Linked DNA regions of Homo sapiens. The protein of the gene in region 1 purifies or fractionates together with the protein of each later gene. This does not show direct contact. Each region holds a gene or a part of one and is shown on either strand. Other genes may lie near its edges.

Region 1 (3,500 bases):
ATAAACTAATAGCAGCACATCGTGGCAAGTAATACGACAGAGTTAAGCAAATAGAGGAAGGGGCGTTAATTCAAAGAAGGAAGGAAGTCAGGAAAGGTTCTATACTGGGCAAATTACTCAACTTCCCTGTATCCCAGTTTCCTAATTTGAAAAAGGCAGATAATAACTGAATATGCCATAGGAGTTGTTATGATGATAAAATGAATTAATATATTTAAAGTGCTCAGGACAGTGCCTGGCACAGAATGGATACTTTAGATATGCTGCAATTATGAATTCTACATGCAAACATTTTTGCAGTGTTAAAGACAGTGAGGAAAAAAAACAACCTTAAAAGAAAAAGACAGTCTTATTTGGGCTACTATGAAAACCTGGAGCTCAGGAAAAAGAGACTACAAAAAAATAACAATAAATCAGATAGTAGATAAAGCACAGATATGAAAAATTGTTCAAATTGTTAGAATATTACATAAACTTAGTTGATAAAGCAGCAGCAGCAGGGTTTGACAGAACTGACTCCAATTTTGGAAGACGTTCTACTGTGGGTAAAATGCTATCGAACAGCATCGAATACTACAGAGAAATCTTTTGTGAAAAGAAGAGTCAATCAATGGGGCAAATTTCATTCTTGTGTTTTAAGAAATTGTCACAGCCACCTTGACCTTTGGCAACCATCACTGTAATCAGTTAGCAGTCATCAACATCAAGCTAAGGCCCTCCACCAGCAAAAAGATTATAATGCACTGAAGGCTTAGATGATCATTAGCATTTTTAGCAATAAACTATATTTTTTTATTTTTTTCTTTTGAGACAGAGTCTCACTCTGTCGCCCAGGCTGGAGTGCAATGACACAATCTCGGCTCACTGCAACCTCCGCCTCCCGGGTTCAAGCGATTCTCCTGCCTCAGCCTCCCAAGTAGCTGGGATTACAGGTGTGTGCCACCACGCCCGGCTAATTTTTTTGTATTTTTAGTAGAAACGGGGTTTTACCATGTTAGCCAGGCTGGTGTCAAACTCCTGACCTCAGGTGATCCGCCCGCCTCAGCCTCCCAAAGTGCTGGGATTACAGGCGTCGTGAGCCACTGCGCCCGGCCAACAATCAACTATTTTTAAATTAAGGTATATACATTGTTTTTTAGATATAATGCTCTTGCACACTTAATAGACTACAGTATATGTATTTGTAAACATAACTTTTATATACACTGGAAAACCAAAACAATCTGTATGACTGACTTTATTGCATGATATTTCCTTTACTGCAGTGGTCTAGAACCAAACCCACAGTATCTCTGAGGCATGCCTTTATAGGGTCAGGGGAACAGAGCAGTATACTGAGAAAACTGAATTCTTATGTTTCAGACAGAAAGAATTTTCTAAGCATTGCTTAAGCTATCCATTTCTTAGTTTCCCAATGTATGTTAGCAATATTAAAGCTCCGTGAAGAGACTTTCAGTAAATAATTTTTTTTCATAGAGGCAGGGTCTTGCTACGTTTGGCCAGGTTGGTCTTAAACTCCTGGCCTCAAGTAATCTTCCCACCTTGGCCTGCCAAAGTGCTAGGATTACAGGTGTGAGCCACCTCACCCAGCCAAATTTAACTCTTTAAAAACTAGCATTCCACCACATTTGACTCAGAGTTCTCCTTTTAAGTTAACTCTATGAACATCATGAAGAACTAGTGTTCTTTCCTTGTAACTCATTTGGAGAAGTATTATACTAGACATTTCTCTCAACGATGAAGGCAATCCAATAATCATAACCCTTTGAGTAAGAGCTTTCAAGCTATTACAAATCTACCTAAAAATAATCTTTCAGGCTAAATTTCTCCCCATCTTGTCCACAAGAATACAGTGAAACTCTCATCTTACTGATACTCAGAACATTTTTGCCTGAGGAAAATAATCTGCCATCTTACCTTGATCATTCATACTATCCATTATTGTCATTAATTTCTTTAGCCTTGCCATTGACTCCTGTTCATTTCCTTTGCTCATAAAATCTGTCCCAAAACCAGGGATCATCCCCTACAACAGATTTAAACATAAAGTCAATAGTAGCTTAAGATTAATGGTTCAAAATGTCCACATTTAACTATTAGGTTTAATATTGACACTAAGTCTTAGATATATTTTTACCCGAATGTAAAAATAATTAAAGCAAGTGTATCTATTTTAGAAAATTTAATGAAAACAAAAGAAGGTATAAAGTTTTAAGGATAACTAACCAAGATCTGACTGAAGGGGCCCATTTTCATGATATTTTGAAATTGCTCATACATGTCTCGCAACGTAAACTGACCTGAAATACAATGTAAATAATTCGGATATATTAAAGTATGTACATTTCCATTCAACAAAACTAATTTATTCCTTAATCATGAATTCATCTTGAAGCATATTTATAAAATATACATCAATAAATATTCACCAAGCAGTTACCATGTGCAAGATGACAGGATGAATGCTGGGGAGAATACATAGACAAAGACAGGTCCTATCATAGAGAAGCTTACATTCTATCTGAGAAGACACATATACAAACACACAAGAAACCTGAAAACAAGGCACATAAACTACACCTACTAGGATGAGTAAAATTTTAAAGGTTGACAATATCAAAAGTTAAAGTGGATGTGGACCACAAAGAACTCCCATATATTGGTGAGAATATAGAATAGCAAGACACTTTAGAAGATTGTTTGGAGTTTCTTAAATAGCTTAGGTATCTATGAACAGGAAAATGGATACACTGTGGAAAAAATATTATTCAGCAATAAAAAGAACAAACTATAGATAAGTACAACTACATGAATTAATATCAAAATATGCTTAGTCAAAGAAAACAGATTGGAAGAAAAACGATATACTCAGAATTTCTTTATTTTTTTAAGAGGGTTGTGCTCTATCACTGAGACTGGATTGAAGTGGTACAGTCATCACACACTGGTAGCCTCAAACTCTTGAGCTCAAGTGACCGCCTGCCTCAGTCTCCAGAGTAGTTATGACTATGGATGCATGCCACTGGATTTTTCTAAGAGATATGGGTCTCACTACATTGCCCAGGCTGGTCTCAAACTCCTGACCTCAAATGATCCTCCCACCTTGGCCTCCTAAAGCACTAGGATTACAGTGTGAGCCACCATGCACAGCCCAGGACTTCTATAATATGAAGTATTACCGGGAAAGGGCACAAGCAAACCTTTTAGAGTAATGGAAATGTTCTGTTTCTTGATTGGGTGTGGGTTACTGTGCATTTGTCAAAAAAAGAAAGGTATCCTTAGGATTTGAGCATTTCATTGTATGTATACTAACCTAAGGTTTAAAAACAGGGATGGAACAAGCCAAAAGAGAAAGTATTTTCTATTTATGTCCTAAAGATAAAAAGAGAAAAGGTATTTGGTTCAGGCATTCTGAATGTGAAGTGGCAGTACAGTATCTTAAAAGAAATGTTATAGCAGTCAACTAGAAACGCAGAATTAAACAGTGGAAGAGAGGATTA
Region 2 (2,402 bases), on another chromosome or scaffold:
AGATACTGAGAAAGAGGTGGATGACCTAACAGCAGAGCTGAAAAGTCTTGAGGACAAAGCAGCAGAGGTCGTAAAGAATACAAATGCTGCAGAGGTATGAGTTGCTTTGTATTGAAGAGGAGATGGGATGATACTGGAACCAATTTAAAGAGCTGGATATATGACAGTGCCTAGAATGTAGTAAGCACTCATAGACTTAAAGTTTTATAACTATCAATTTTTATTTGTACAATAAGAATACTATAATTTGTGAATTTAAATGCTTAAATTATTTTAAAATGGAAGGGGCATGAGGAGAGATTGGTAATTCCTTCATCTCTGTAATGTGAAAATGATGGCTCTATTTGGAAAATTCTATCTAGCAGTTCTTTTCGGTGTTTAGGAATCCTTACCAGAGATCCAGAAAGAACATCGCAATCTGCTTCAAGAATTAAAAGTTATTCAAGAAAATGAACATGCTCTTCAAAAAGATGCACTTAGTATTAAGTTGAAACTTGAACAAATAGATGGTCACATTGCTGAACATAATTCTAAAATAAAATATTGGCACAAAGAGGTGAGATTGTTACCGTTTAGTTTAATTTTAAACATATTCTTTATGAAAAAGGAGGGTTTGGGGAGGATTGTTTTAGGGGGTTGGGGTTCTTAAATTTTGTTTGTGAGCTACATTGTGATTTTTAATTCTGTGATCACTTCTAAGGTTTATAGGGGACATAACAATATAAATTGTTATATACAGAAAAGTCTGAGTAACGATTAGAATTAGACAACTACCCTTTCACCCTAGGGCTGATCTGGACATTTAAGAAAAGATTACATGGACACTTTTGAGTGTTACAACTATTTTTCTTGAAGTCCTTTGAAAAATAATTGATAAATCAGTCACAACTCCTGTTGTTTTCATAGCTGTGTAATTTGTCATATTTTTTTTTAAACAATGAATTGTATGTAATATTATGCCTTCTCTAACTCTCCCCTAAATTGAACTTTTAGATTTCAAAAATATCACTGCATCCTATAGAAGATAATCCTATTGAAGAGATTTCGGTTCTAAGCCCAGAGGATCTTGAAGCGATCAAGAATCCAGATTCTATAACAAATCAAATTGCACTTTTGGAAGCCCGGTGTCATGAAATGAAACCAAACCTCGGTGCCATCGCAGAGTATAAAAAGAAGGTATGAATGAACTGTGTATGTATACTAGTTGGAGTTCTTTTTAGTCCTTAGCCTAAATTCTGATCTTTAGTTTTGTATAATTAACAATGCTGTTGGCCGGGCGTGGTGGCTCACGCCTGTAATCCCAGCACTTTGGGAGGCCAAAGGCGGGTGGATCACAAGGTCAGGAGTTCGAGACCAGCTGGGCCAACATAGTGAAACCTCATCTCTATTAAAGATACAAAAAATTAGCCAGGCGTTGTGGCACGTGCCTGTAATCCCGGGTACTCGGGAGGCTGAGGCAGGAGAATCGCTTGAACCTGGGAGGTGGAGGTTGCCGTGAGCCGAGATCGCGCCATTGCACTCCAGCCTGGGCGTCAGGGCAAGACTACGTCTCAAAACAAAGTAATAATTAACAATGCTAATTATCATATCAAATTTATCTGAATAGATTTTCCCTATCATAATCTTTTCACAGGAAGAATTGTATTTGCAACGGGTAGCAGAATTGGACAAAATTACTTATGAAAGAGACAGTTTTAGACAGGCATATGAAGATCTTCGGAAACAAAGGCTTAATGAATTTATGGCAGGTTTTTATATAATAACAAATAAATTAAAGGAAAATTACCAAATGCTTACTTTGGGAGGGGACGCCGAACTCGAGCTTGTAGACAGCTTGGATCCTTTCTCTGAAGGAATCATGTTCAGGTGTGTAATTATGCTGAGTTTATAATCCCACTGTTACCTTTTTCTACATATTCTCCAAACTCAGTATTTCTTGGAGGTAGGATGTGAAGGCAAGATGTACAACTTGTTTCATTTACTAGTAAATACTAATTTGCTTGCATGCTATTTATGCTTGCAGTTTACAGGGGCAGACAGCCAGTATTTACAAAATATTTGTCTAGTTCATCTTTTCTTAAATTTTCAAGGCATTTTTAACATGAGGATTGAGAAATTGTATTTGATAAGGAGAAAGAATAGCAAGAAGTATAATACTTAGCTTGCTCTTTAAATCTTAAAACTTTGGTATGTGCTCCTATGTATGCATCCTCCAATAACGTTTTTATAAAATAACAGAAAAGAGAATTCATATTTGTGAAAAGCAAGTTACAGATTCCTAAAAAAGATAGTAGAACTCAATTATGGAAAGCAAATCACAAAGTCTTAACTTTAGCTTTACAGGTAATTTGACTATGATTTTCTTAATCATTTCAGTGTTCGACCACCTAAGAAAAGTTGGA

The links. The genes of interacting proteins can lie anywhere in the genome.
Region 2: the proteins of SRP54 (region 1) and SMC4 fractionate together in Homo sapiens (co-fractionation; one large-scale study listed by BioGRID). This does not show direct contact.

The regions. Positions count from the first base shown.
Region 1 is NC_000014.9:35,017,492-35,020,991, reverse strand, and holds part of SRP54 (signal recognition particle subunit SRP54), read right to left. Parts: intron 2,301-3,500; coding exon 2,227-2,300; intron 2,027-2,226; coding exon 1,918-2,026; intron 1-1,917. UniProt on the Homo sapiens protein: Component of the signal recognition particle (SRP) complex, a ribonucleoprotein complex that mediates the cotranslational targeting of secretory and membrane proteins to the endoplasmic reticulum (ER).
Region 2 is NC_000003.12:160,430,650-160,433,051, forward strand, and holds part of SMC4 (structural maintenance of chromosomes protein 4), read left to right. Parts: coding exon 1-94; intron 95-382; coding exon 383-556; intron 557-993; coding exon 994-1,176; intron 1,177-1,633; coding exon 1,634-1,866; intron 1,867-2,376; coding exon 2,377-2,402. UniProt on the Homo sapiens protein: Central component of the condensin complex, a complex required for conversion of interphase chromatin into mitotic-like condense chromosomes.